7 linked regions of the Homo sapiens genome follow. The protein of the gene in region 2 interacts with the protein of the main gene of each other region in a biochemical or structural test. Each region holds a gene or a part of one and is shown on either strand. Other genes may lie near its edges. The genes, in order: CCNT1, PML, ARNT, MYB, ERCC6, USP11 and SATB1.

Evidence for each region.
Region 1: the proteins of PML (region 2) and CCNT1 form a complex in vitro, tested with the Homo sapiens proteins (one study listed by BioGRID).
Region 3: the proteins of PML (region 2) and ARNT form a complex in vitro, tested with the Homo sapiens proteins (one study listed by BioGRID).
Region 4: the proteins of PML (region 2) and MYB form a complex in vitro, tested with the Homo sapiens proteins (one study listed by BioGRID).
Region 5: the proteins of PML (region 2) and ERCC6 form a complex in vitro, tested with the Homo sapiens proteins (one large-scale study listed by BioGRID).
Region 6: the proteins of PML (region 2) and USP11 form a complex in vitro, tested with the Homo sapiens proteins (one study listed by BioGRID).
Region 7: the proteins of PML (region 2) and SATB1 form a complex in vitro, tested with the Homo sapiens proteins (one study listed by BioGRID).

What each region holds. Positions count from the first base shown.
Region 1 is NC_000012.12:48,706,213-48,710,554, forward strand, and holds part of CCNT1 (cyclin-T1), read right to left. Parts: intron 1-4,342. UniProt on the Homo sapiens protein: Regulatory subunit of the cyclin-dependent kinase pair (CDK9/cyclin-T1) complex, also called positive transcription elongation factor B (P-TEFb), which facilitates the transition from abortive to productive elongation by phosphorylating the CTD (C-terminal domain) of the large subunit of RNA polymerase II (RNA Pol II).
Region 2 is NC_000015.10:74,021,906-74,026,247, reverse strand, and holds part of PML (protein PML), read right to left. Parts: intron 3,421-4,342; coding exon 2,840-3,420; intron 1,392-2,839; coding exon 1,321-1,391; intron 1-1,320.
Region 3 is NC_000001.11:150,810,154-150,814,495, forward strand, and holds part of ARNT (aryl hydrocarbon receptor nuclear translocator), read right to left. Parts: intron 4,087-4,342; coding exon 3,924-4,086; intron 3,186-3,923; coding exon 3,019-3,185; intron 1,958-3,018; coding exon 1,868-1,957; 3' UTR 1-1,867. UniProt on the Homo sapiens protein: Required for activity of the AHR. Upon ligand binding, AHR translocates into the nucleus, where it heterodimerizes with ARNT and induces transcription by binding to xenobiotic response elements (XRE).
Region 4 is NC_000006.12:135,211,819-135,216,160, reverse strand, and holds part of MYB (transcriptional activator Myb), read right to left. Parts: intron 763-4,342; exon of another isoform or gene 661-762; intron 1-660. UniProt on the Homo sapiens protein: Transcriptional activator; DNA-binding protein that specifically recognize the sequence 5'-YAAC[GT]G-3'. Plays an important role in the control of proliferation and differentiation of hematopoietic progenitor cells.
Region 5 is NC_000010.11:49,525,031-49,529,372, forward strand, and holds part of ERCC6 (DNA excision repair protein ERCC-6), read right to left. Parts: intron 3,496-4,342; coding exon 3,387-3,495; intron 1-3,386. UniProt on the Homo sapiens protein: Involved in repair of DNA damage following UV irradiation, acting either in the absence of ERCC6 or synergistically with ERCC6. Involved in the regulation of gene expression.
Region 6 is NC_000023.11:47,235,637-47,239,978, reverse strand, and holds part of USP11 (ubiquitin carboxyl-terminal hydrolase 11), read right to left. Parts: intron 910-4,342; coding exon 800-909; intron 629-799; coding exon 498-628; intron 190-497; coding exon 72-189; intron 1-71.
Region 7 is NC_000003.12:18,383,450-18,387,791, forward strand, and holds part of SATB1 (DNA-binding protein SATB1), read right to left. Parts: intron 3,163-4,342; coding exon 2,950-3,162; intron 1-2,949. UniProt on the Homo sapiens protein: Crucial silencing factor contributing to the initiation of X inactivation mediated by Xist RNA that occurs during embryogenesis and in lymphoma.

The sequences.
Region 1 (4,342 bases), on a different chromosome or scaffold from region 2:
TTTTAAGGAGTAAACTGAAATGTCCAGAATACGCAAATCCATATAGAGAAAAAGTTTAGTGGTTGCCAGGAGCTGCGGGGAGAGGAGTATAGGAATAACTGCTAATAGGTGAGGAGTTTTCTGGGGTGATGTAAATGTTCTGCAATTAGACTGTGCTGATGGTTGCACAATTTTGCGCATATACTAAAAACCAGTGAACTATATAATTTAAACAAACGAATTTCATTGTACGTGAATTATATCTCAATTACTTATACATATCGAACCTTTCAAAAATACAAAGCATGGCATTATATGCAAGACATTATTTATAGAAAGCATTAAGAGGGAAAAATTGAAGTCAATATAAAAGTAGATAACAAACTTTATAAAAGATTAAAGCAATATGACATAAATGTAGCCTGGTGATCTTGGAAACTTCAGGAAATAGAACTTTTCTTGAATATTAAGAACATTTCAGTGACTCAAAGATAGTAATGCTAAGAGCTGTATTTCACCAGGAGTCAAAGAAATACATAAATAATTTTACAGAATTTAAATATATATTTCATTTTACTGACTAGAACTGATATTCTAATACTTATTTGTAACCCTGATGTCACCTATGCTATACTTTTCTAGAGTAAGTTTTTCTCCACAAATTCAACTCATAGTATTGATTTCAGACAAGACCATAGGAGACAAAAATAATTTAAAACAAAATTTTTTTAGGCCAGACACAGTGGTTCAAGCCTATAATCTCAGCACTTTGGGAAGCAGAGGCGGGGGATCACTTGAGCCCAGGAGTCCGAGACCAGCCTGGGCAACATAGTGAGAGAGACTCCATCTCCATACACATACGGAAAAAACTGTTTTAAGTAAACACAGTGATTCTTTTCCTTCACATTTGTTTCAGATGAATATGAAGCATACTACATATATATTCCTCAGACTTTAGGATAAACAAAACAGGATCAGAGAAAAATGGATATGAACAAAGGTATGGTGATCTAGGCGTAAAGCACATTTTCAATACTAAACTGAGTAGTTAAATACATTAGATAATCGGATGTGGAACACTAGATTTTTTTTCTTTCTTTTTTTTTTTTTTTTGAGACAGCATCTCACTCTGTCACCCAGCTGCAGTGCAGTGGCGTCAAAATCACAGTTCCACTCAACCTCCTGGGCTCAGGAGATATTCCCATCTCAGCCTTCGAAGTAGCTGGGATCACAGGCACACGCCACCACACCCAGTTAATTTATTTTTATTTTTAATAGAGATGGGGTCTCCCTACATTGTCCAGGCTGCTCAAACTCCTGGGCTCAAGTAATTCTGTCTCTGCCTCCCAAAGTCCTAGGATTACAGGTGTGAGTCACCTCACCCAGCCAAGATTCTTAACAAGAGTGACACTAAAGATTTTGAAAAATATCGTTTAAGAAATGTTTATGATAAATGTATATAACTATTATGTACCCATGATAATTAATAAAAATAAATTTTTAAAACAAAGTAATATTTAGAAGGAGTAATCTGATGGTAGGTAAAACTAGGAGAAAAGGATGGGATACATTAAAAGTTAATTCAGGCTGGGTGTTGTGGCTCACGCCTGTAATCCCAGCACTTTGGGAGGCCGAGGTAGCGGATCACTTGAAGTCAGGAATTCAAGACCAGCCCGGCCAACATGGTGAAACCCCGTCTCTACTAAAAACACAAAAATTAGCCGGGCGTGGTGGCACACACCACCACTCAGGAGTCTTGTAGTAGGGTAGTCCCACCTACTCGGGAGAATTGCCTGAACCCAGAAGGCAGGGGTTGAAGTGAGCCAAGATCATGCCACTGTACTCCAGCCTGGGCAACAGAGCCATACTGTCTCAAAAAATAAAATAAAAGTTAACTTAAATAATAATTTAGGCATTAGGACATAAAGTTTAGAGCACTTTGGGAGGCCAAAGCAGGAGAATCACTTGAGCCCAAAGTTCAAGATCAGCCTGCGTAACACAATGAGACCCTGTCTCTGTTTTTTAAAAATTATTTTAAAATATAGAAAAAAGAATTTTAAAAAGTTTAGAGTAGGCCGGGCGTGGTGGCTCACGCCTGTAATCCCAGCACTTTGGGAGGCCAAGGCAGGCAGATCACCTGAGGTCAGGAGTTCAAGAACAGCCTGGACAACGTGGTAAAACTCCATATCTACTAAAAATACAAAAATTAGCCAGGAGTGGTGGCACACGCCTTTGGTCCCAGCTACTTGGGAGGCTGAGGCAGGAGAATCGCTTGAACCCAGGAGGTGGGGGTTGCAGTGAGCCAAGATCACGCCATTGCACTCCAACCTGGGCCACAGAGCGAGACTCTGTCTCAAAAAAAGAAAAAAAAAAAAGTTTAGACACTAGCAGTAGAAATAAAGGAAAAAAGAAACACAGGCATCACTTTGTAAAACTAATAGGGCTGCACTAAATATATGTACATGTACTTGCATACAAAGAAAAAATTCTAATGGGATATACTCTAAAATGTTAACAGGATTATCTCTTTATTTCCTGTCCGTCCTCTTCCAATTTTTTGATAATTTAAAAAGTACATATTTATAAGGAGAGGGAAAAAATGGTAACATTATAAAATTAGCAAGACTTTATAGGCTGGGTGCAGACTCTTGCCTATAATCCTAGCACTTTGGGAGGCCAAGGCAGGAGGATCCCTTGAGCTCAAGCCTGAGCAACATAGCAAGACCTCATCTCTACAAAAAATCAAAAGGAAAATTCACTGGGCGTGGTGGCACTGTAGTCTTGGTAAGGTGGAAGGATCACTTGAGCCCAGGACATGGAGGCTGCAGTGAGCTATGATTGTACCACTGCACTCCAGCCTAGCCTAGGTGACAGAGTAAAAACCTATCTTGGGGTTGGGGGGGACTATAACTAACTGAACAAAGGGGAAAAGGACAAGTCAAAGACTAAGGTTTTAAGCCTATTAGAAACTAAAAGTATGGCATAAACTAATAAAACCAAAATAAAACTAAACTAAATTATGGCACCACTGCACTCCTGGGCAACAGAGGGGACTCCGTTTCAAAAACAAAGAACTAGATAAATGTTTCTTGAGGTAATTAATATTTGTTGTTTGTTAGGGTGGAAAGAAAAGGACCCTCACCTACAGTGCTGGAAACAATGTATAATCTTTCAGTAGGGCAAACTGACACTACAAAAATTTTTATACATTGTATACTCTGGGCACAGCAATTCCACCTATAGGAACTTGTATTAAAATGCTTATATAAGTGCACTATATATGTACAAGACTATCCCATGAAACATAATGTACAATATAATAAACTAGAACAACAACCCAAATAGCTATCAATAAAAAGCTGGTTAAATAAACTACAGTAACTACACAAATACCATGTGGCAAATTAAAATAATAAGAAATCCAAAAAATAATAAAGGGAAGTATGGAAAGATGTCCAATACATACTGTTACATGATAAAGGCAAGCTGTGCAACAGTAGCATAGCAAGATATGATTTTTTAAATAAAAATACCTCAATGCTAGTTTATGTGCACAGAAAAATGTCTGGGTCACTATAAACCAAACATTTATCAATGGTTATCTCTGGGTGGGATTACAGAGTAGTTTTCACTTTCCACATACATTTCTGTACTGTCTTAATTTTTACCATGGGAATTTATTATAATATCTTTGGGTTTCTTCATTTTTTTTTTTTTGAGATGGAGTCTCACTCTGTCACCCAAGCTGGAGTGCAACGGCACGATCTCAGCTCACTGCAACCTCCACCTCCCGGGTTCAAGCAATTCTGCCTCAGCCTCCCAAGTGAGTAGCTGGGACTACAGGTGCACGCCACCATGCCCGGCTGATTTTTGTGTTTTTAATAGAGACGGGGTTTCACCATGTTGGCCAGGATGTTTTCGAACTCCTGACCTCAAATGATCCACCCAACTCGGCCTCCCAAAGTGCTAGGATTACAGGCCTGAGTCAACACGCCCAGCCTCTAATACCTTTGTAATAAGAAAAACACACACACACATACAAAAATGCCTGAGGACTTGACAGGATATATAACATATCAATGCCACATTGATTATTAGGCCACATTTAATGTATTAAGTCCTCTCACATTTAAATTTGGATTCATCACAGCTAAACTTAGAATTAGTATGTTAAAAGGTGATATTAAATCTGGAATCTGTTGATTCCAAAATGTGCCTAAAATCAATCCTCTAAAAAGGATCAACAACTTCAAATTAATCAGTGGATTTTGAAAAAGGTCATGACATCCAAAAGAATATCCCTATACTAGCCAGGTGCAGTGGCCCATGCCTGCAATCCCAGCACTTTGGGAGACTGAGGTGG
Region 2 (4,342 bases):
AGTGAGCCGAGATCACGCCACTACACTCCAGCCTGAACAACAGAGCGAGCCTTCATCTAAAAAACAAACAAACAAACAAACAAAAAACAGAGTCAGCTTTTAATCTTGCCCCTAATTTGCTGTGTGTAGCCTTGGGTAAGTCACATCCTTTCTGGGTCTTAGCTTCGTCCTCTGTGAAAAAAAGGGGGTTAGACTCCATGCTCTTGCCTGGCTCTAAAACTCTGAGACTCTTAAGTCCTGTCTCTTCCAGGAAGCCTCTCCTGATTGCCTCAACCTACAGCACTCTCTCTCTCCTATGGGTCATGCCATGGCAAAAGCTAGGCCCCTACCCACCACCAGAAGACCTGCTGTCCATGAAGGACTGGCCAGTCCTGGGCCAGATCCTTGATAGGCTAGGCGCATGCAAACCTGAGTGACTAGGCTAGGGAAGAGACCAGATGCCAAGTCCAGGAAGAAACCGAGGATGCTTATTCTGGTGGAAAGGAGCCATACTTGTGAATGCCAAAGGGGGCAAGTCAAAGGGACACCACTGCATTTCCACTCGGAAAAGCACTTTCTAAGTCAGAGCAGTCCAGAGTTGGGAGCAGCTGCCTCTAGAATGAGCAAGCTTCCTGTCCCTGGAGATGTGTACATGAAAGCTGGACAGCCACAGGTCAGGGGTGCTGCAGAAGGAATGCCAGCATTAGATGGGACATGGATACCTTGAACCCTGAGACAGTCTGCTTTGTTACATGTATGGTGGCCCTGGAATCACACCAGCAGAACCCGGGCAACTGGGATCGAAATCTGACTCCTGGCACCATTCCCCGTTCCTTTCCAAGAACCATCTGTGGGGAAAGAGCAGGGGAAGGCCCACCTATTCTGACTCCAAGAGAAGGCTCCCACATTGGGGGTAGGGTGTAGGAGGGGAGAGGACATCTGCACATCCCTCAGGACTGCTGACCCTATATCTAACCATACATCTGACAACCATAGTTTCTCATGGCTGGAAGGCACTAATATGCCATCTAATGCTGGAATTCCCTCTGCAGCAGCCCTGATCTGTGGCCGACTGTCTACCCCACATCTAACCCCCACTGAACCTGGCTCATGGCCCATCAAGAGCAACTTTGGCATTTAGGAGCCTAGAGTCAGAGCCAGCTAGCCAGCCAACCCTTCTTTAATGTCTTCCTTTACTTCCTCTCACTGAAATTTCCAGTCCAGCCACTTGCTGTCCCTCACTCAGACGCTCTCCCTGCACACACAGGGACAGCAGGACTCACAACCTGCCTGACCTGCTGGGCCCCACCACCACCCCTTCAGACCTCAAACCCATCTCACCAGGTCAACGTCAATAGGGTCCCTGGGAGTGCTGGCAGCCTCTGGGCTGGCTTTCTTGGATACAGCTGCATCTGTAGAACACAAAGAAGGTCACAGGCAGGTCAAGGACATGCTGGTAAGGGACATCCTGACCTGGGACAGTGATAGAGAGGAGGTCCCTGTTGCTTTTCCAGGATACCTATTTTCCAGGGCATCCCAAAGCACTGGACAACTCCCTGGAGGGGCAGCTGGAAGGAGAGCTCTCTCGAATGCAGTGGGCAGGAACCCAGCCAGAAGGGAAAAGGAGGTGGCATTAGAGTGCTTGCTTTTGGCTCCAAACCCCAAGTGTACCTCTCTCCATCTCTGAGCCAACAGCAAGGCTAAGTGTGCGCAATCATAAAGCCATCACTACCGGCTCACTGACTCTCTACATATAGTGAGAGCTCCATGATCTTCCTTATCTGCAGCCTGGTTTTTATTAAATCTAAATCTCTTATGCTTCAGAATAAAATAACCCTTCTCTCTGCTATTGCCCAGTTATAACACCCAAGGCAAGCTGTGTAAACTCTGTGGGGTCATTTCCTTAATATGGGTGACATTCACTACCTAGGTGGAGAAGGCACAGGTCCAGGCCCTCTAAGATTATCCTTCATGACCCATGTCCAGCTCCAGGAGAAGTAAATAAGCTCTTTGTCACTGGCACCCTACCCAGGTGCCTTCAGATTCCATAGCCTCCCTCCCCTTTCCCAGTAAGGGCATCCTATACTAGCTGCTCAGAGCTCACATTCCAGCTTGGAGATTTAGTCAAAGACTCCTGGAGACTCTCTGGCACACTCCCCCTACCCCTTATTTTGAAAGCCCCCCTGTTCCAGCTAATACACAGCTGCTACATCTCCCGGATTTGGATTGCAGAGCTGAGCACTGTCTCATTCTCCAGCTACGTGAAGTGGCTCTGGCTCCTTGAGATCAGAAACTAGTCTGTGTCTCCTTACCTCTCAAGCGTCCAACACTAGGCAGGGCGCGCAAAGGTTGGCAGACAGCAGGTCATCCTGCAGACAAGGGATCTCCTCCACTGAGCCACTGTATGGTTTTGGGTAAGCATCCAACCATCCCCAGGAGGTTTTCTTAGCCCCCTTCTACCGTAACCCCAGGTCCCAATTGACTTCTCTGTTCCGAGACACCGGTGGCTTAAGAGAACCTCCTGAAGTGCTTGGTCCCTCTGGCGCCAAAATGATACTGGGTCTGATTCTCAGCTTTGCAGTTTTTCAACTTTCACGTGTTCCCCATGAGTCATCGCTAGGTCAATCCACAGAGTCTTGTAAATTAGTAAAATGTGTCCCCTCTGGGTGGCTGCAGCCCTTTGTCAGGGCCTCATCTCCCCCTTATCCTGTGCCCTGGAACCTAAGACCTTACCAACCCCCAAAGACTGAATAAACACCCAGTTTTCTTTTCTGTCAAATGGAGATGATCTCTTCTGACTCGCCTTCCCTAGGGTGCAGCAGAGGCACAGGCCGCCCAGGAAGGTGGCGTGCGTGCTTACCTTTCCCCTGGGTGATGCAAGAGCTGAGGTCCTGCAGGCGCACCTTGAACTCGTCGAAGCCATCGGTGCGCACGGCAGCTTGCAGGCTCTGGGGCTCCTCCTGGCGCAGGCGGCAGAGCGCCTGGCGCAGGAAACCGTGCATGTCCAGCACCTCCTGGTCCGAGGCGTAGCACTTCATCCTCTGCACCAGCGCGCTGCCCGTGCGGATGCGCTGCAGCACAGCATCCAGGCGGCCCAGCCGACTGGCCATCTCCTCGTAGTCGCGCTGGTACCGCGCGTCCACAGCCTCCAGCAGCTCGCGCTCCTGAGCCCGCACGTGAGCTACCACCTGGCGCACGCGCTCGCGGATCAGCTCCTCGGTCTCGGCACGCGCGCGGCCCAGCTGGCCGACGGCCGCGTGCATCTGCGCGTGAACCGCGCCAAAGGCACTATCCTGCTCCTGCAGCGCCTGCGTCATGGCGTCCAGCTCCTCCTGTCGCTGCTGGATCTCTGCGCTGATGTCGCACTTGAGCTCACTGTGGCTGCTGTCAAGGAGCGCGCACGAGCAGCACAGCGGCTTGGAACATCCTCGGCAGTAGATGCTGTGGACACACAAGGTTGGCCTGGGTTAGGACTCTCCTGACTTTTTCCTCTTAAAACGTTCGTTATTAAATTCCTCTTCCAAAAATACCAGACTTTGAATCATGGCATGTTTCTAGGTTTCTGCTTTTCCTAATTCAGTGTTTGTGGTTATGGTGATAGTATCCAAACTACCAATAACACATGAGTATAAAAAGTTACTACAGTAACAATTTCAACATCCGGGAAACAATACAAAGATATACGAAACGACAATCATCTCTTTCCACCACTTCTGAATTTCCCTTCCCCACCGAGGAAGCACCAGGTGAGCATCGTGGGGTGCACCCTTCCACACATCTCTCCACTGAAACCGCCTTACACAAATGCCAGACTGGGCTGCTGCTTGCAGGATGGTACAGACTTGACACATGTCAGCCATGCCACTTAACCTTTGCAAGAGCCCCTTGAGTGAGAATTGTCGTTATACATATTTCCCAGAGGAAGAAACAGAACATGTTAAATGATTGACCTAGATATCTACAATAATTTTGGGGGCTGATGTTTGTTCAAAAAAAAAGAAAGAAAGAAATCGGCCGGGCGCGGTGGCTCACGCCTGTAATCCCAGCACTTTGGGAGGCCGGGGCGGGAGGATCACCTGAGGTCGGGAGTTCAAGACCTGCCTGACCAACATGGAGAAACCCCGTCTCTACTAAAAATACAAAATTAGCCGGGTGTGTTGCCGCATGCCTGTAATCCCAGCTACTCAGGAGGCTGAGGCAGGAGAATTGCTTGAACCCGGGAGGCGGAGGCTGCGGTGAGCCCAGATGGTGCCATTGCACTCCAGCCTGGGCAACAAGAGCAAAACTCCGTCTCAAAAAAAAGAAAGAAATAAATCAAGTCATATAATTACTTTGAACTTCCTCCTCTCAACGAACTTTCACT
Region 3 (4,342 bases), on a different chromosome or scaffold from region 2:
ACTGTAAAGCTTAGCACAGATGCCAGCAATACAGAAATGGCCAACAAGAAAACAAAACAGTCAAAAATAAAACCCTGAAGGAAAAGCAAAAACAAAACCCCCAGAGCATCTTCTCGCTATCCTCCCCTTCCCCAAAAGCCCTATAATAACTGTACAATATTATAGTCCTGATCACATTTAAAAAGTCGATTATTAAAAAACAAGGGTTCCATTGGAAACTCAACTTTTTGGTTTCGTAAATTGTGATATAAATATATATGTATACTGTAAGTGTGCACATAGAATAAAAAAATAAACTGTCTCCTTTTTTACTCCACTACCTGGCACCAGACTGGAGACATAAGGAAGGGAAACTCAGCAAATGGACATTCCTTTGGCCTCTTCAAGGCCACCCTTGCTCCTCAGTCCCCTATGACTACATTTAATATATCTTCTCATTAATTCAGTCTTGCACTTTAGCTACTGGCCAAAGCCAATTTAAAAAAAAAAAAAAAAAAGCTGGTATCTACGACTGTTACCTGAGGAAGGTAAAGGGTGAGGGTAGTAACCTGTATCCGCATTTATATGGCTATTGTTAATTACCAAGTGACCCTGTTGAGATGGGTGTCCAGGCCCCATCTATCATACGGAATTATGATACTTGCACTCTAAAGCAAAACCCAATCTCAAGATTGGAGGGAGCAAAGAGGAAAAACCTCTTAGGGCCAGAGAGACTTAAATCTCAGTTGCTTGCTAAACTGGGTATTTTGAGTATGGGATGAAAGAGGCTACTTTGCAAGAGGGCTTCGTATTTGGTTTACACTCCAACAATGAGGATTTTCACTGGGACGGCTAATCCAAGAAGTTGAGTTTCCATGCAGAAATAACCTCTACAGAACACACATCATATGTGATTCTGACAGAAAAATGCAGCATTATCTTTATGGCCAAGTCTCGGGTTCCAGAAAGTGTTTATCTTGCCAGCCTATTTAGGTAATGTTTGCAGATCTTCCAGATAAGGTGAGAGCACCAAAAGCAGCAGTAACCCAGCTTTATCACTGAATGTGTTCGATAACAGACAATCGTATCAACAGCCGACTTTCTATATTTGCTTTACAGTTGTATATTGGCTGGGCATGGATGCAAGCGCAGCAAAGACGTTTATTTAAATATTCTTTGGCTGCAATACTAAGTGGAAAATACCTGGAAGATTTAACTCCTTAGGACTCTTTGAAAAGTACACAGAAAGACAAAGGTAAAATCGGGGACAAATTTTGCATAACTCCCTAATAGGGAGAAAGAGTGAAATACAGAAGCATGTGTGCGCACACACACACACACACACATACACACACACTCTCTCTCACTTACTCACATGTTTCTTTCCAGAGGGACTGCTCACAGGCAGCAAAAAGAGCCTATGCTCAAACTTGCTAAAGCCCCATATATACCTACAATGTTTCATGGTCCTCAAATATGAGGACATTTCTCCTCTCCTCCACTCTCTTCAGAATTTCTTTCCAAAAACAAGCCATACTATCCAAGGCAAACAGTGGATGTCAGGTTCTTCTAACCTGCCTCTTGATCTCAGCACAAATCAACACTATACAATTTCAGGTCAGGAGACATAAGGAAAGGTGTTTTAACTTCACCCAGCCTCAAATTTTCAGACAGTCCTAAAAGCCTTGGAGATTCATTCCATTTCTTCTATAAATGTTACCTTAGAGAGGCAACAGAGCAGGGGAACAGCCAGAAGGGAAAGGGGGTACATGTCAGGGGTGAGGGAAGGGAAGGGAGAGGAACTTTTATTCTGTTTACAGAAAGATTTGCTTTTTAAAAACAAACAGTGATTTTTTCTCCCCCACCCCTTATCCTCACCCCAATAGTTCTATTCTGAAAAGGGGGGAAACATAGTTAGATCAGGGAATTCTTCATTGTTGTAGCTGTTGCTCTGATCTCCCAGCATGGACAGCATCTCCTGATAAAAGAAAAAGATTAAGTTTGGGTCACACACCTTGATCTCTTACACTTACCAAGTTCTACTCCACCATTCCCCTGCACTACCATCCCTGACCCCGAGTCTTTGCTGTGCTGAGCTCTTAGCCTTCCTTACTTCCAACAACTTTGACTCCTTTAGATCGCAGCCTTTTTTCCTAATCCCTTCTGTCTTCCTCCTACAGTTCCACCTTTTTCCTTTTCCTAGTTCTCAATATTTTCAAAGGGAGAAAAATCTGCTTGCTGTATTTCATATAACCCCCTATAGACATATATGGAGTCTCTTATCCTATTTGTTTTCCACCAAGACCTGTTTTGCTTTCTTTCAATCTTTGCTTTAAACCAGCTCTTCCTTTGTCCTGCCTAAGATTACTCCATTCACTCTTGCAGTCCCTCAGGACTTGTGTAAATAGACCATTATGGCTATAATCATTATGTTCTATTTCATTTACTTTTTATAATTTTTTAAATGGAACACTTCATGAATTTGTGTGTCATCCTTACGCAGGGGCCATGCTAATCTTCTCTATATTCATTCCAATTTTAGTATATATGCTGCTGAAGCGAGCACTACTTTTTATTTTTAATCATTCTGTCTCTTTTAAACCCAAAGCTACTGTGACTTGGGTATATGGAGCTATTTGAATGAGCTAAAGTAACTTTCTTTGGCATCTTCCTATGGTGCTAAATTTGTCTGTTCTGGTTAAATGGTATGTATCACACTCAATTCATACTCCTTTTTTGTTTGTTTGACAGGGACAGGATCAGGCTAGTTGCTCAGCCTGGCTTTGAACTCATGGCCTCAAGTGATCCCCTGCTTCAGCCTTCTAAGGGGCTGACATCATATACACAAGCACCACTGCATCTAGCTTCTGCAATCTTTTCAATAACTGACAGTGATCCCTACATTTATCCCTCTCTGTCTTCTCACATATACCCCCAACCAAACACCTCAATCCAGGCATGCTTCCTTCACTGTCTCTCCTCCTCCTGGACCCTTTCTCTCCCAGCTTCTAATTTTTGAAAGTCTTTTCACTCTCTTACCTGGAAGACCTCAGGCTGGCCAGGTTGCTGTGCTGGCGGTTGTTGAACATGTTGCTCACTAGAACTTGAACGATGATGAGGCTGCTGGCCCTGCCACTGTGGCCAGACACCCACACCCTCTGCTGTCCGTGTCTGGAATTGTCCTGCAGTCTGTCCAGTCTCAGGAGCTAGAAATACAGCAAGGAAGAATAAACAACTCCAATCTACACAATTCCATTGTGTACTAATGCCACAAGTAAACAACTATAGGTAAGCCATTAATTTTACCTAGGATAACTCTGTCCTTCTCTCTGCCAATCAATGCCTTTTCTATCTCAAAACTCAGCCCTAAATTAATTCTTCTTCTCCAGGCAGCCTTTCCATAGAGTTCTTTACTCATTTAGGTTAAATGTGCATACTATTAAATGTATAAAAATTCACATGATTTTTGTTATATGTGCTAAAGTATTTTTCATGTGGGTAGTTTTTTTTTTTTATTTTTTATTTTTTTGAGACGGAGTTTCACTCTTGTTGCCCAGGCTGGAGTGCAAAGGCGCGATCTCAGCTCACCGCAACCTCTGCCTCCTGGGTTCAAGCGATTCTCCTGCCTCAGCCGCCCGAGTAGCTGGAATTACAGGCATGCGGTACCACACCCGGTAGAGACAGGGTTTCTCCATGTTGGTCAGGCTGGGGTTGAACTCCCAACCTCAAGTGATCCGCCTGCCTCAGCCTCCCAAAGTGCTGGTATTACAGGCGTGAGCCACCGCACCCAGCTGGTAGGTTTTAAATTCTAAATAGATTGTCACCTTGCATTTCCCTACAATCAGGTCAGTGTACCCACAACACAGGCAAACAACTTTAACTACCAAATCCTTTCTCTTTAGTGGTGCGATTTTCCTGTTACTCTCCTTATGGTCTGGACTCACCAAAGTTAGATCCACGATTGGTGAGACTAGGGTAGGCAGCAGCACCAGGCGATGCAGTTGGGGCACCAGGGAGGGACATGGAGCTGAAGGAGGATGGAGTCTGAAAGCTGCCCACACCAAACTGGGAAGTACGAGTCTTAGCAGTAGCCTGGGTAGCCACCTGCTAAAGAGAGATGGAGAGGGGATATAGAACAAATACAGCATTAACATCATTGCACATACCATGCCTATGAGAGTCAACACTGTCAATCACTGCATCCTTCTGAACCAAGCTCATCACTTATTTCCTATTGTATATTTCTTCCAATTAACTCTCAATCTCTCTTGACACTATTTTTTAGGCAGCTGAGATAAAATTACAAAAAAGCAATGAACTATGGGATTAATAAAAATTGTAAGAATTAAATGAAAGCATCTTA
Region 4 (4,342 bases), on a different chromosome or scaffold from region 2:
CGAAACACCAGCATAAAGCACAGTGCCCCAGCTAGATGTAACCTCCTGCTTGACTCTGATCTCTCTAGCAGTCAATGCAGAGAGGGGAACAGAAACAAACAGATATAAGATTTGGTGGCTGTAAGCTCAAAAGGAAACCAGTGGGTTAGAAAAGGCACTATTCCTGGTATTGCTATCTGGAGGGATTATTTTCCATGGGACAAAAGAATAAGAAAGGCCTTAGCTGTTCAGAGCCTACAGTGTCCTTTATGAGACAGAATGGACACAGGTGAAACAGGAGGAATAATAACAGGCCGTGTGCGCAGGTTTGTGGTGTTGTCCATGGGAAGAGGGGATGGGACACTGAGGAACTGTCAAGGCAATGCTGTGGGGAAAGGGTGAAAACAGCTAAGATTAGGGGAGAGAGAGGTGGAAACGCAGGGATGTCATCCAGGGAGCGAGATAGCAGGAAAGAGGCAGGAAGCTGCAATTTGTACATTGCCAGTGGGAGGGGATGTGGAGTGGGGGAGGGCTGAGAAAGAAAGGGTTAAACGACAACATAAAACAAGCCCTCACTATAGGCACCGCATGCCTCTAAGTGTTATTGATATAACTCCTCTCATTTAATTCTCACACAAAACACCTGTGGCATAGCTACCATTCACTGCATCCATTTTACAGACCAGGCAATTTGAAAGGAAGAGAGGATTTAGGCGCCATACTCAAGGTTACCTGGGTAAGAAATGATGGAGCAAGAATGTCACCCATGGGACCACACCCCTGGTGAGTACCAGACGCTGCCTCTAATTCGAGTTCTTATCAGAAACAATAAAAGGAACCTGGGAAGTTGTGTGCTCAGGGCACCAGGGCCTTGGAATCCAGGAAAGTGCTGAGATGGGGTGTGAGAGTCACCAGACTTCTTAGCAAAGAAACATAATTCTACTAAAACAAGGTATGGGTACAGTGGTAGGGTTTCCTTGCCTAGTTGCTGCAACAAAGTTTCCTGACATAGGGTTTGCAGTGTAATGTTCTAGCTTTTAAACTTTCCTAGGGCACAAAGCTTGTGCCATCTCCCCACTGATGTCAACAGCACTGTCTATGAATAGAAATGTTCACTCTGCAAGCTCAGAGGCTCAACATATAACTTGAAATACTACATAGCAAGATGGATTATCATAATATTTTCCAGGAACTGAGTATCTCAAAAATGACAAGACAAAGATAACAGACAGGTATTCTGAATTGCCTTCTATTCCGAATTTAATGTTTTCCTAAACAAAATTACCAGGTTAGTTACAGTATTTGAAATAGTTCTGAATAAATCATGTTTCTCTAGCCTCAAGCATGCAGGTGAAATACGCATATCTCTCTGGTGTCTATCTGTCCATACAAATTCCCGAAACATGAAATTGACACAGGAAACCAATTAAAAAACAAAATTTAATGTTATCTTTTCAGTTACTGAGCTTGCATTTGTAGTCGCTACAACAGTGTGACATTTAATAGTGACTACTTGAGGGTGAATAGTTCAATATGGTGAATATGAAGTACGATGCAGGGCTTATGGCAAGGATTAGATGCACATGGAGCCAAGGACTTGGATCTTAAAGAACAAGTGACAAAACAGGAAGCAGAATGAAATATCTTAATATCATAATATCTTGTAGGTAAATTTAAATTTACATAAAGACACACATAGAAAAGAAAAATACTTGAAACAAATGGAGGGGAAGGGGAATGAAGGTGAGAATGGAGATGTGAGAACCAGGAAAGAAAGGATTGCTTCTGTTTTACTCTAGCTAAGAATTTTTCCAAAGTCTTTAAAATGGCCTATTAGAATTTTTTTTTTTCTATTTAGCTGGGCTTCAATCAATATAGAATTTTCTTGTCCATTTTTCTTTTTTTTAGATATAGGGCCTCATTCTGTTGCCCAGGCTGGAGTGCAGGGGCGTGATCACAGCTCCCTCAAACTCCTGGCCTCAAGCAAGCCTCCCGCCTCAGCCTCCTGAGTAGCTGGGACTACAGGAGTGTGTCACCATGCCCAGCTATGTTTTTTAAAAAAAATTTTTTGTAGAGAGCGGGGGTCTCGCTATGTTGCCTAGGCTGGTCTCAAACTCCTGGCCTCAGGTGATCTTCCTGCCTTGGCCTCTCATAGGGTTAGGATTAAGGATAAGCTACTACAACCAGCCAGAATTAATTTTCTAAATGCGTAAATTATCTTAAATGCTATGTTAAAACAATCTTATGCTTGCTATTACTATGCCTCCTGTTAAAAGTCAAGTTCTGTGTCTTTTTTGTTTTCGTTTTTGAGAGAGGGTCTTGCTCCTTGCCCAGGCTGGCATGATCACAGCTCACTGCAGCCTCCATATCCGGGGTTAAAGTTGATTCTCCAACCTCAGCCTCCTCAGTAGCTCAGACTACAGGCAGGTGCTACACTACACCTGGCTAATTTTTGTATTTTTGGTAGAGACAGGGTCTCGCTGTGTTGCACAGGCTAGTCTCAACCTCCTGGACTGAAGTGATCCACTTGCCTTGGCTTCCTAAAGTGCTGGGATTACAGGCATGAGCCACTACACCTGGCCTAAAAGTCAAGGTCTGATCCTTTGTAATATAGTCCTTAGGTTGACTCAGAATTCCCAAAGTCGATTCAGGAGAATCTAGTACTAAGTATTATCAACTGAATCTATTTTCAACTTGAAATCTGACTGTGTTCCTGTGAGATCCCCTACACAGCTCATCACTGTATTCATATTTAGCTCTTCCTCCAGGACTAGGTATTTAAAAATGAGATCAATATAAAGAAGGTACCATATATTTGTAATTAGAGTTCTGAGAGACCTTTCCAAATAGTTAGCTTCTCCTAAGTCAAAAGAGAATTTACCAAGAAACAAATAAAAATGAAATATCCAAATTCCAGAAAGCATAGCATTTCTGAGTCATATATCCCCTGAAGCTCAGAGCTAGGGCAGCCAAGATGACTTGGAACGCCTGATTCTCCCAGTATAGACAAACACCAGGATGTGGTAGCCACCATGTACGAGAACCACTGTGTGTAGGAACAAAAAGGCCACCAAGCATGAGCGAGGCAGCTCCTTTTCTGCACCAGGAAAGCACAAGACAAGCACATCTTACCACAATAAATGAAACAAACTGGTCAGAGTAGACATATGCCTATGTCGTGAAAGTCAAGGAAGATCAGAAGATTGAGTACTTTGGTACAAAAAAAAAGAAACGCTCCCTTTCTCCCATCTTACCTGAAGCCTGGGAGCCCCATGCCAACTTTTCATGCAGAAAGAATTATTTTGACAAAGGAAGATTAATGTCTTTGTGCTGGAAGAACATTTTTAAATACTGTCATACATATCTTTGCAAATTCTCCTTGTTCTCTCTCCCTAAACTTTAGTTTCATTTACCCTAAAGAACTGCTGAGAATTATGGGTTTCTGCATATGAATTCTTGTTAAGTTACTAACCCATGGTGCTCTTGCAGACATGTCACTCTATCATAATTCATTTCAACATTAATAATCCTACCCACACATCCTCCTCCTGTGGCCGGGGAGTCATCTCGCTTATCCTGTAATGTGCCTTTAATTGCCCCTGGGCAGAAGTGAACTATAAACAGTCTGTCAAAGCTTTAACTGGGATATCCTGTTAAAGCACTTTAAATAAATATTGCCATCTTTTGTAGAAAACAGAAGAAATAAAAAGAAACAAGACCATGTCCACAGGTGGTTTTCTGTCAGAATTAGATGATCTTCACATTTTCATTTAGAACATGAATAGTTTTTTCATCAAGCTGAACAAAAACGGTTCTTATTATTATATTCATACAGCAACTTCACCCAGTATCTGCTGGCTTCAAAAGCCTTGGCAAATTATGTGTTTTACAATTTGCTGACCTAATAAGAAACTTGTATAAACTAAAAAAAAAAAAAAAAAAAAAAAAAAAAAAAAAGTAAAACCAAAGCAACTCATCAGATGGTATCATGTTTTTATTGTGTTTTGTTTTAAAATAAGCAGGCATCAATGGTATATAAAACAGTAAAAAATAAGAATTTTCTGCTTATTCTATTTCACCTATCTGAAAAAAAAATACTTCCTCTGGACTAAAATTCTAAAAATGAGAATTCCTTCCCAAAGGGACATCTTTTGAAAAAATGGATCAGTTATAAGAGAGACTGTAGAAATCTTTAGTTGTCTTTGGAAAGTCAGAGATAAGCTTAAACTGAAATGTTGCTAAGGTAAGATTAATGGTTACCAAACTTTTCTCGAGAGTAAATGCTTCCCTAGGTTGGCACAAATCAATTAAATGACTCCAACTTCAGCACTACTGATTTTCTATAGAAAATAATCTTAAAAGT
Region 5 (4,342 bases), on a different chromosome or scaffold from region 2:
CTCTGCCATCCAAAGATAGGCTTATTACTGTATAAATACAGTTATAAATAGTCAAGTTTAGCTGTGTTTCCTTATCAGCTGAGTAGTCGTCCATGAGGAAGCAAGCTCCGAAGTTCTCACGTCATTGCTAAAACCAACATTCAGATGGACTTAAATTCAAGAGACAGTAAAACCAAAAACAGGGATCACCATGTACCTAAAAAGGAAAAACATAAATGTCAGCTCTATGCTGCCCAGCATGGCAGTTACCAGTCACCTGCAGCTATTTAAATTTAAATTACATTAAGTTAAAAACTCAGTTCCACAGTTGCATTTGCCCTTTTTCAAGTGCTCAAGAGCTACACGTGACTAATGGCTACTATAATGGGCAACACAGAGAACATTTTCATCACTGCAAAAAGGTCTATTGGACAGCAGCACTGTGTTAGATATGTGAAGTTAACTGACTTGAAGACATTACACCATAAGTGTAAAGTCACCAGAAAGTATCCCTCTTTCATTAGTTGAAATTCATCTCTGGCAAAATTACCACATAACCAAAATACCAAAAGACCTAAGGCTTAATAGGAAGGAATCCATATTCTAAAATCTACAATTCTTGCAGGCCAATGATACCCAGTTTTTCATTAAACTTGCACTGAAATAAAACATACATCTGAAAGTGCACAAATCATTAAGTGTAGAACTCAGTGAATATTCAGAAAAAATGTACTCATAAACTAGCAGCCATATCAACTAACAGAATTACTAGCACCACCAGATGAGCCCTTCAGGCTACCTCCCAGCCTCTACGCCCCCCAAGATAATGATGGACCTGGACTCCTAACGTACAGACAAGTTGTGCCTGTCTCTGAACGCTACGTAAGTGGAAATGTTTGTGCCCTGTGTCCACCTTCCTTCACCCAACATTATGCTTTTGAGCTGCATCCTTACTGTTGAATGTAGCTGTAGTTTGTTAACTCTCACTGTTAATGCACATTTGAGTGGCTTCCAGGTTTTGGCTACTAGGAATAATGTTGCTATGAATATTCTGATGCACATCTTTTGGTTTTATTTATATTTATATATTTATATATTTATATATTTTTATATATATATATATATATATATATATATATATATATATATATATCTGGGTATGCTAAGCTTTAGTAGACACTGTCAGTTTTCCAAAGTGTTACGTTCCAAAGTCCCCATCAACTGTGTCAGAAAGTTCCAACTGGTGTATATTCTTGCCATTCCATGTTAGCTATTTTGGTAGATGTGTAGTGGTACCACATTATGGCTATAATTTACATTTCCCTGATGACTAACAAAATAGGTGCCTTTCATGAATTTATCTTTTGGATAGCCTTTTTTGTGTAGGAAGTGTTCCAGTCTTTCGCCCATTTTTGTTTGTCTGTTTCTTTAAATGATTTCTAGTTCTTTATACATCCTAGATTTGAGTCCTTTGATTCACACATGTATTGCAAATATCTTCCCCAGCTCAGTATCTTGCCCTAAATGCTATCTTCTGATGAACAGAAGTTCTTGGTTTTATATATAGTCCATTTAACAAATCTTTTCCTTTACACTGAGTATTTTGCCTCAATTAAGCCTTAGGTCTTTACACTGAGTATTTTGCTTCCTATTAAGCCTTAGGTCTTTTGGTATTTTGGTTATGTGGTAATTTTGCCGGAGATGAATTTCAACTAATGAAAGAGGGATACTTTCTGGGTGACTTTACAGTTATGGTGTAACTTCCAATTTCAGTTCATGTCTTCAAGTGTTGGCTGGTGTCCAGACGGAGAGATATAATAGGAACCAGGAACTCAAAAAAAGAGCAAAGCCAGATGTCTACAGATCTGTATAAGGTACTAGTAGAACCTAGGTGGCTGCAAAAGCCATGGGGAATAGATAACCAGGGAGAGGCAGTAGAACAAGAAGAGGGCTCAAAGAAATCCTGAGAAACATCAATATTTAAGATATGGCCAGAAATAACTATGCAGAAGTAGTCAGAGGGCTAAAAAGAAAACCAGTAGAGAAGCAGGGATCCCACAAGGAACAGAAGTGTCAGCTGCTGTGGACAGGCAGAGTGGAACAAGGATAAAAAGGGGCTCTTGGATTTGAGGAGGTAGCTATTAACCCTAGACAATGTAGCTATTAACCCTACTACCAAAGTTTTAGCTATTAACCCTAAGAGGTAGCTATTAACCCTACTACCAAAGTCACAGTAGGAGGTGAAAGACAACAGCAGATCTGAGACGGCCAGACAGGAACAAACATCTGTTATCAATGAGAAACATAGTACACAGCAGTTAAAAGCACTGGTCATAGGCCTAATGAATTCTGAGAGGCTGAACTTTAAAACCACGTACTTTTGGGCTGGGTGCAGTGGCTCACACCTGTAATCCCAGTACTTTGGGAGGCCAAGGTGAGCAGATCACCTGACGTCAGGAGTTCGAGACCAGCTTGGCTAACATGGTGAAACCCTGTTTCTACTAAAAATACAAAAAATTAGCTGGGCATGGTGGTATGCGCCTGTAATCCAGCTACTTGGGAGGCTGAGGCAGGAGAATCGCTTGAACCCGGGAGGCAGAGGTTGCAGTGAGCTGAGATGGTGCCATTGCACTCCAAACTTGGGCAACAAGAACGAAACTCTGTTTCAAAAATATACATATTTTTTTCTATTGCTTCAATTAATTCTTCATAACAATTCTCATCTTACTGAATAAACTTCTAAAGCTAGTAGAAAATAGTTGCTTAGAGAATTTAATGCTAAGCAGCTTTAATCTGTATTTCAAATAGTCAATGCCTATGCAGCCACCAACAATTTGTACACACACACACACATACACACACACAATGACTGCAAAGATAATTTAGTTCCAGAGCTTACGAATTTTCCCAAAAAGTTTTCCAAAAGACAACCATCCAAGACAGTAATGTAAATGAAATACTGCCCAGAGTACCTGAATGAAGATGTCTTTTCTTAAACTGATGCTTGGAAAGCCTGCCAAATACGCTCTTTAAAGACACGTGAGAGCCATTCTACAAATGCGATTAATGATGTTGGGCTTCCAACATGTAATTTAATCATGATGCTAGTTGTCTTTATCAAATTAACAAAATAAGAATGTTTAAGATTTCCAGTGTATTAAATGTAATAATAAATGTGTACCAGCAGCCTCCTATGAACTGAGTTAAAAGTTTACTTTAATTCTCTTTGAGAGGGATTTGGTTCTGCAGGTGTAGAGAATAAAATTTTCCTAAATCTGTTTTGACACTAAGGCAAAGAAACGTATTTTTCTCAAAACCCAGGCAAAGACTAAAGAGACACCCTCCACTGACTACAGGCATCAGGCATCAATTCAAGAACACAGAGAAACTGCTCCTAGCATCCTCACCTGCATCCTCCTCCAGACTGGCGTGATCTAGTTCAATTTTCACCTCTGCTCCTCCAAGGATGGCCTGGAGATGCTTTTGTTTTGCAGTGATCTTTTTTAGCTGTTGTTCCTTGAATGGTAAATATAGAAGACAGAAAACAGCAATGAAGTGATTTATTGTTAAATACAAAAGATAGCATTATGAAATTTTAAACTTAAATCCAAAGTAAAATAAAAATAATATACATTACATAAAAATTCCATACATTACTATTACTAGAGAGCCCTATGTGAGCAACTACCACTTTTCTAGGAGTAAAGGGGCCGTGAATATTCCCAGCAGACAGGCATGCCTGCACCCCCATGCTCTCCTGAGGACGGCAGACTGCCTTCTATGTGCCCGAGCCCTTAAATACATGGGCACTGACCTGAAAGGTGGACTTGTTCTACTTGGTTTCCCCCTTACACACTGGGCAAATCCCTAAACTACTCTGTATTTCTGATTCAGAACCAATGGGCTATGGAAGTCAACAGGCCATAAGATAAGAAATAAAAACACAAATGTTCAATTGAAAAAGTTAGTCTCCTTTGATAACCTACTATATTTATGACTGTCCTTTTAGTATTCTACCTAATCAAAAAGCTTTAAGAAAAAAATATATCTTGCCATGCCTCTCCACCCTGGCCACGCCAGACTCCTCTTTGTCTTGTTCCCTTCCACATCACCAGAACTCAGATATGTGCCCTTGGGCTTCACTGGGGAGGCCCAATGAACTGGGCTTGTGGTACCTGGTTCATCTTTCCAAGGTCAAGAATGTTTCAACTTCAAATACGAGTGTGGGACAAGGGGAAATCCTGAACATAAATGCCACACTGCAATGACTTGCAATTTGTTTTTTCTCAGTTTTTCTCTCAGCAACATTCTGTCTAAAGCACTTTCCCTCTGAATAGTCTACCTCTAACCATCAAAGAGCTGC
Region 6 (4,342 bases), on a different chromosome or scaffold from region 2:
TGCAACCTCAAGTCACTGAGTTGGGACTAGTAGCTAGGAACACCAACCCATTGCGTGACCCTTAGACTCACCAATAGAATCGGTATGGCTGAACTGAACAGTGTGAGATTTGCCCAAATCATTGTGCCGGACAAGCAGCAGTTCTACTGGGTACACTTCGACCTTCTGGATGTTGGGCAGCTCTATGACCTGTAAGAGTAGAGGGGTGCAGACACAGGTGTACTCACACAGACACAGCGCTGTGACCTCTCAAATGAGAGGAGCACACACTCTGCCTTACAAACATAGCATACAAACACACATATACAATGGTCTGTAAAGAGAGCCACACAGGGGAACACACACAGCAGACAAAGATACCTGTATGATGAGCTAGGAGGGGGAAGAGAGCAGACATATGTGTACCTACCCAGCATACATGGATCTGTACCCATGCTGGGCCTACAAGGCTTTCTTACTACGCACTCCCCGCCATGCACCCTCCCCATCCATTATACCTTGCGTTCAATGGGTGGCTGGCCATGCTCTAGACCATACCAGCTGACCAGGTAATGCCAAGCAGCTGCTGGGAGCAGCACATAATCCTCGCCTTCCACCAGTCCCTCCTTGAGGCGCCAGTTTATCTCATCTGTGGGGCGGGGGTGGAGGTGGCAGAGGAAGAATCAACAAAGGAAACTGACGAATGACTCTGGCCACCCCACCAGTGACCTAGCACACAGAATGGGCTTATGATCATCTGTAGGGACGGAAGGGACAAGAACTCCAGGGCTAGGGTGAGAAGGAGGCAAAGGCCTTGTACCTTGAAAGAGTGTGGCATTGTTGATGCAGCCAGGGAAGGTGCTGGAGTCCTGGTCCCCTCCCTGCACGTATGCCTCCCACTGCTTATACCAGTGCTTCTCCACAAGGAACCTGGGGCCCAGACAGGTAACAAGGGTGTTACATGGGTAGCTGAGGGTTAGCTATACAACTTCCCATGCCCAACAGACTGAAAGTATTGACACATTATAATTTAAGATGAAAAGTTTCAGCATCATATAAAAATAAATTCGAAGCAAAATTTATTCAGTGAAACTCAGATTTGTATGTTAGATAACTTCTTAGTATTAAAAAAGAAATCTGATTAAAAACAGAAAATGTGGTTAACAATGGCAAACAAACCAACAAAAAATCCATACTTATAGTGCTAGGAAACATGAGGTTTTATTATAGAATAAAAGATGATTCATTTGAATTAGTCTGTGGGATAACCCAGTTAAGTTAGGCTCAAGATATGTGCCATCTGCAGCTAATTTTATAAGGCTTTAGCCATTCATTATGTGTTTGTTTCTAAAGGATCTATCAATGGAAGCATAATTCTTCAGCTAAGAACTAGATTTGATAAATGGTGAAAAATCTGCTTTTAAAAGGAGCAAAGAATTTAAAATGCTAAAAAGAATCATAAGGTTTTCCTTCAAAAACTGCATACTGAAAAAAAAAAAAAAAAAAAAAAAAGACCGGGCACAGTGGCTCACGCCAGTAATCCCAGCACTTTGGGAGGTCAAGACGGGTGGATCACCTGAGGTCAGGAGTTCAAGACCAGCCTGGCTGACATGGTGAAACCGTCTCTACTAAAAAATACAACAAATTAGCCAGGTGTGCTGGCACGTGCCTGTAATCCCAGCTACTTGGGAGGCAGAGGCATGAGAATCACTTGAACCCTGGAGGCAGAGGTTGCAGTGAGCCGAGACTGCATCACTGCACTCCAGCCTGTGCGACAGAGTGACTCCATCTCAAAAAAAAAAAAAAAAAAAAGAACTGCATATTGCTATTGTTCATCATTTTTTAATTTAGAATTTACTTTGGCTTTATAGTAAATTCCTGAGCTTATGGTTCTCTTAAAAACTGTGATAAAAACATGTAACATAAAACTTACCATCAAGCATTTTTCAGTATACAGTTCAACTAGCTCTCTTTTAAAGGTGAAACTTATATGTACTACAAGGATAACCATTTAGAACTATATTGAAATCTACCTTTGTGAGAAATCCTGAAGTTTGGAAAATACTTGACATATAATAAGTGCTAAATGAATTTTAGCTGTCATTGTTCTGACAGCTTGGACTTCAGGACTTGGACATAAAAGCTCACAGACATAAACCTCCTCCTGCCTAAACACACACACACACACACACACACACACACACACACACACATACACACACACCTGTTCTGCTGTGGCATTTCTGACACATAAAAGGCTATCCCAAATACTGAGCAGCCTCAAATAAATGCTTTTTAAAAAATAACCAAATTTGATGAAATGCACATAACATTATATTGGCTGGTTTTCAAGCAATTTAACCTCATTATTATTATTATCATTTTTTGAGACAGAGTCTTGCTCTGTCGCCCAGGCTGGAGTGCAGTGGCACAATCTCAGCTCACTGCGACCTTTGCCTGCCGGGTTCAAGCGATTCTCCCAATTTAACCTCATCAATGTGATTCTTTAAAATGTCAACTTTCCCTTGTTCATGAAAGGATCAGAGAGGTGGGAGGATGGAGGGACAGACAAATCTTGGAATAGTCACAAGTCACCTAGATAGGCAAACATTTCTGTGGGTTTTTTGTTGGTTTTGTTTTTTTGCTGCACTGACCCCCACAGACCCTGCCCCATATCACTCACACCAGGGAAACAAACCCTTCTGTGCCGGTGGCTCAATGCTCAGACCCAACCCTGCACCCCACACACCACCATCCACCCTTTGTGGCTTTACTTGCCTCCATAGCCAGTCTATGAAGTTAATTTGTTCAGTAAAGCTATAGTTAACAGTACCTTCCAATGCAAAGGTAGGCACTGCTCAACTTCTTTTTAAGAGCAGATTTTGAACAAAAAATAACATTAAAATCACGCTGTAGAGTGGTAAGCAAAACTTCCAGACCTGGTCACAGGCTGAACTTCTATAGATTTCATAGAGGACTGACATTTTACATAATTTTTCACAGAAAATTATTACCATATTGCTTCAAGTCAAAGACACTTTAAAAAAATCATTGTTAACATCTCTGAAATCAGGATGTCTCACAATCTCTGTCAGGCCAGGTGGCAGTCACAACAAAGGTGTCATGGTCTGTATCAATAACACCCAAATTATTATATTTACAGCTGGGTATTCAATTTTTTGGATGCTATCATAAATGGTATCATAAATTTTAATTTTCTAGTTTCTTGCTGCCAGTATATACAGGTACAACTGATCTTGCTAAAGTCACTTAGGTTTATTCGTGCTTCCTCAAATTTGTTGAAATGATATGAAATATGTGCTTATGGAAAAAAGTTGCTAAACAATTCTTTATTTTCTGTCTTCTAGTTTTCTCTTGTGTCTGATTTGTGTTTGAAGATGGTTCATCCCACAAAAGGAAAAAGTGAAAATTTCCAAGGAGGCTATATTATTACAGATTTGAATTTGCCTTAAAATACAAGCTTCTCCCAGAAATTAAATCAGTTGTGATGACCAAATTAATTAACTACCCTCACCCAAATCTGCCAGCTGACAAAAGACAGAAGGTGCAAATATTAATACTGATACAAGATATATGATTTGGGGTTAGTCCATGACTTCAAAATGCTTTATAAACACATATATCCTGGCCACTTAAGCAAACCCCTGTAAAATGGAAAATGGACAGCAATAAAGAACCTTGAGATGCTTTGCTCTTACTAGAGAAGCATTAACAAAGTGGAGTTTAGCAAAAATGCTTCATGATAATACCCATGACAGCAGAGACAAACCGGCTTCAACACTGAACCAACACTGGTGTGGTAATTTTTTTAATGAGGTGAAATTCACATAACATAACATTAACCATCTTAAAGTGAACAATTCAGCGGCATTTAGAACATTCACAATGTTGTACAACCACAACCTCTCCCTAGTTCCAAAATATTTCATCATCCCAAAAGAAAACCCAGTACTGGTGGGGTAATTTTAAAGCGTATTATCAAGGATGACAGGATGTCATGTCCTACCAGTGACACAATCACAAGGCTACAAAGGTAGGAAGAGGCAAGGATCAAAGCCTCAAGGCCCTTTTGAACATCTTCAAATGAGTTACAAAACACTGTGGTTATTTTGTTTATTCTCAGGATGAAATGAGGCTTTTTCTTGCTGGAAAAGTGTGACGTAATGGCAGAAAAACACGGCTTGGGTTTGTATTCCCGATTTGGAAAATCTCAACTCATCTCCCCAGTAACAGAGATACACATTTCACTGGTGTGGTTATTAAAGAACTCTGTAGTGAGTAAACCTCACTCGAAAAAGCCCTAAGGTTAGATGTGTTTGAGGAACAGCAAGAGTCCAATATG
Region 7 (4,342 bases), on a different chromosome or scaffold from region 2:
GAACCACTGAGGGCCTCTGCTTTTAACATGTGGTTCTTTAGAAAGAAATCAGGTTTCAGGTGCAACCCAAACCCAAGATTTGTCTCAAAATATGTTTCAAATCTCCTCATTTTGGGGGAAATGAAATGTATACTGATTTCACATGGACTCCTCTTTGGCAAAATGTAAAATTTAAAAAGACAAAATTTTGCAGTCTGTGTTATCTGTGGTTTTCTCCATTTTATCCTTTATTTTAACTCATTTTTAATATGCATACTGGTTCCAGTTTAAGCATCATTTCATTATTTCAACTGCTACAAGACAGCACTAATTCAAGTGCTCTATAACGTGTTTTTCCAAATCTAAAGTACTAATTTTGCATTGATAATACCTTTAATACCTTAAGATTTCTTAAAATTTAATTCATTTAATCATGGTTAAAGGGAAGAATGTGAACAAACTGGTAGTGATCTCCATTATAATAATATTAATAATTTAAAGATTTATATTGCAGCAGCAAAATAAAATTACACACACATACACATATCAGTTAGTCATTTTGGAGTTTGGTTAGATGGCCAGTAATACTGCAGTAATAGAAATGTTTTATTTGAAAGAGTTTCACTAAGAATCTACAGTATGTATATACTGTATATTTTCATCATTGGCTGAATACCCTAGCTATGGGCTTGGTCTCAGCTCCTCTTCAGAACAAACAAATACAGCTAAGGGTGGCACAACCAGTTAACCAATAATTCAGGCAAAAATAAATTAAACATATATTCTATCCCAACTTATCAGCAGATAAAGCCTTTAAGCATACATACAGGAAAGTTATCCTATAGTATCTTAACAGCATATGAAAAGAAATATCACTTAATAAGAATTGGTATAACTTTAGCTCAAGAAAAAGCTTGATGAGTAAGGACACCCAAATCACATTTGGAAAATAAATAAAACCAGAGTCCTAGAAAAATTAGAAAACAAAAGCTGTATTAAGGAACCACAAAGTCAAATATCTGGCTAGATGTTTTTTTTTTTTTTTAAAGCAGTTCAATGTTGAAGTTCATATTGGTCTTAAGTAAGCCATTCTTTTATTAGTATTGCAGATTAAGTGATAAGTAAAGTAATTCTCTGCTCAGAGCCCTGTCAGTGGTGACTTCAGGAGCAAAGTTAACTAATAAAAGTGTGTGTATTAACACTAAACACTACAGAAAAAGTACCAAACCAAATTATTTTATTTCATTTCGTATATTTTTTCTTTTTTATCATTCCTAGAAGTCATAGTTTATCTTTTCTCTTTAACCATACTTAGAAGTCATATTTTTTATACATAAAGAGTTCCTCATTCTTTATCTTAGGAAATATTTTATAGAAGCATTTAGAGATCAAATTCAATAACTTTGTGTGCGTGGGCAGGTGGGTGTGTACATACGTATATAGATGCCATGCTTTTCTCCTAAAGAAGCATGACTTTTTTATTCACAATTATAGCAATGATTTCCTTATAGTCTGTTCCTATAGACATCAAGACCAGATTGATTTTCATTAAATAAACTAGTGAAAATGGATTTTGTGACATTTCTAAAAAGTAATAGTTTCAGAACCTTATGATAAGCAGTTTATTTAGCTACTCAACAAGTGGCTAAATATTTCTTATTTATGCAGTATCCGTAGTACTTTCACTCTTTAGTGTTGAATGAGTTTTTTCTAGATTTCTATACATGAAAATGTATAACCACTTTCTACCATTGATGAGAATGAAGTAAAATCGAGATACAATTTCACTATGAGATTGTCATATGAATATTTCGACTTTTTCTTCCATGTTCAATTTTTATCCAATTTTAACTGACCTTATTTTTAAGAGCTGTAAATGTCACAAGTTAAACATGTAAGAAAACACATTTGCAGCCGGGCGCGGTGGCTCAGGCCTGTAATCCCAGCACTTTGGGAGGCCGAGGTGGGAGGATCATGAGGTCAGGAGATGGAGACCATCCTGACTAACACGGTGAAACCCCGTCTCTACTAAAAACACAAAAAAATTAGCTGGGCGTGGTGGCAGATGCCTGTAGTCTCAGCTACTTGGGAGGCTGAGGCAGGAGAATGGCGTGAACCCGGGAGGCAGAGCTTGCAGTGAGTGAAGATCGTGCCACTGCACTCCAGCCTGGGTGACAGAGCGGCACTCCATCTCAAAAGAAAAAAAAAAAAAGATAATATATTTGCTTGTGGTTTTTGAGTCTAATACACTAACTAGCAAACTTTTATCTAAGGGTTTGTAATGCAAATTGATTTACTGAATTATAACAGTTATGAGGTTACTTTTAAAACTTAGTTTAAAAAACAATACAGATTCACATACCCAAAGTTACCCGGAAGGCAACTTTCTTTCCTAAAAAGTCCAAAAATTTTAAGAAAGAGAAAACATGCCCGTATCTTGGAGTATGGATAGAATTCCTTATCAGCCCCATTTAAAGCTGCCTTCAAGGATTTTATTAAACTTAATTATGAAAGATTACAAATGAGATGGTGTGTAATTGGTACCAGCTGCAGTTCGTACTGGAAAGTATAAATACAAATGAAATTATTTATTTTTATTTATTTACTATTCAAATGGCGATTCTGAAACCAGTTGGGAAAAAACTGACTTTATTCTTTTTCTATTGAGTTTAAAATACTTTACTTAATAACAACAGTAGAGACAAATATCCCATTTAAAGACTACTTTCACCCCCAAATAACCCAAAGAATGAAGGAACACAAAGCAATTTTCTTCCCTCTATCTAATTAGGAGCTTATTGTTTTTATATCAGAATTAATGATTTGGGACCAAATTCTCCTCAAGCAACTATACGAATTTAAAAACATATAAATCTATGTATCTATCTATCTAATTTCTTATTGAGATTCTTCCTCAAGCATTAAAAAAAAGCTAAACAAAGAAGGGCAAGGAGGAAAAGGAGACCGCACCTGGGGAGGACGGCTGGGTGGTGTGCTGATGAGGGGGGCAGGACCCATGGCCGAGGCAGCATTCAAGCTCCTTTCCCTTTCGTCCTGGTATATTCGGTCTCTTTCAGCTTCCGGTAACTGCAAGAAATTCTGCATAGCCCGAAGGTTTACCAGCAAAGACTGGGATGCAGTCTTGGGGTCCTCTTCCTTTCGGAGGATTTCTGAAAGCAAGCCCTGCAAGAAATGAAAGGCACAGGGTGAGCCTGCTGCCTTGCTTTGCCTGGCCAGCAGTGATCCTTCCCTTTTCTTCTCCACTCTGTTTAGAAAATGAACAGTCAGAGGCATTAATTCTGCATAGGAATATATTAGTTACAACTGAAGTGGTAGAGAAGAGAGCCTCAATTGTATTCTTAATTTTATTAAGCATCTGCTTTACATATAACATAAACTGAAACTGCCTAATTGGTCTCCTTCCTTTGAGTAGCTTAACTTGCCATGAAATCTTTCACAGAGAGACGATCCAGGGAAGTTAAGAATAAACGAAATCCTTATAATGCAACAGCACTGAACTGTATAGTTCCCAAGCTGCCTAGACAAAGGCAGTGTAATGCCTACAGCCCAATATGTAAAGATACAAAGCCATTTCTAGAGAAGTAGAACTTTCAAAGAAAATACCAGAAAATGAATTTTAACATATTAGAACAAAGGTTATTACTAAAGCATCACCTAAGGTTTATGCTGTATTTTCACAGGCAATGTTTAAAATTATTCCTTAAACTCTGACTTATCAAAGTACATGACACTACGTGACCCTTTCAATTTACCATTTTCAGAGAACCTCACTGATTATCACAAATGATTCTAAATACTATCTTGCTGTATTATACCACTGGGTAACAGGTTTAAATTTTGAACTTTAAAAACCATAGACAAGATTTGAAATATATTAACTAATTTTCAACATTGCGAAAGTCCATCACAGCATGCCAAGGAAAAGAGTATCAAATTCTGTAATTATCAAATTTCTTGGGGAATAAAAATTGTTAGTGATAGAAGAAATTTATAAATCATTAGAAAACTCTTAAGGTGTCTTTCCCCCCTAAATAACAGAACATCAATTTTCAACTAATTTTTTTAACTTTTGGAAGAACTCTTTCAAAAATGGGTGGTTCTCCCCATTGCATTTAAGAGACAATATGAAATAAAAGAATTGGAAAATTTTCTGTTCATTTTATAAGGGCTAAGCAGCTCTTCTCTCTTTAATCTTGTACATGAAATAATGCTTGGAATAGTAAGACATATTTGGTTTCTTCACTTAGCCAGAGTATCAGCTTCAGAATAAAATTTTGTCAGGATTTCTATATAATTTGCAAATCTACTTTCCAATATCCTGCAGAAACAGTTAAAGGTATAT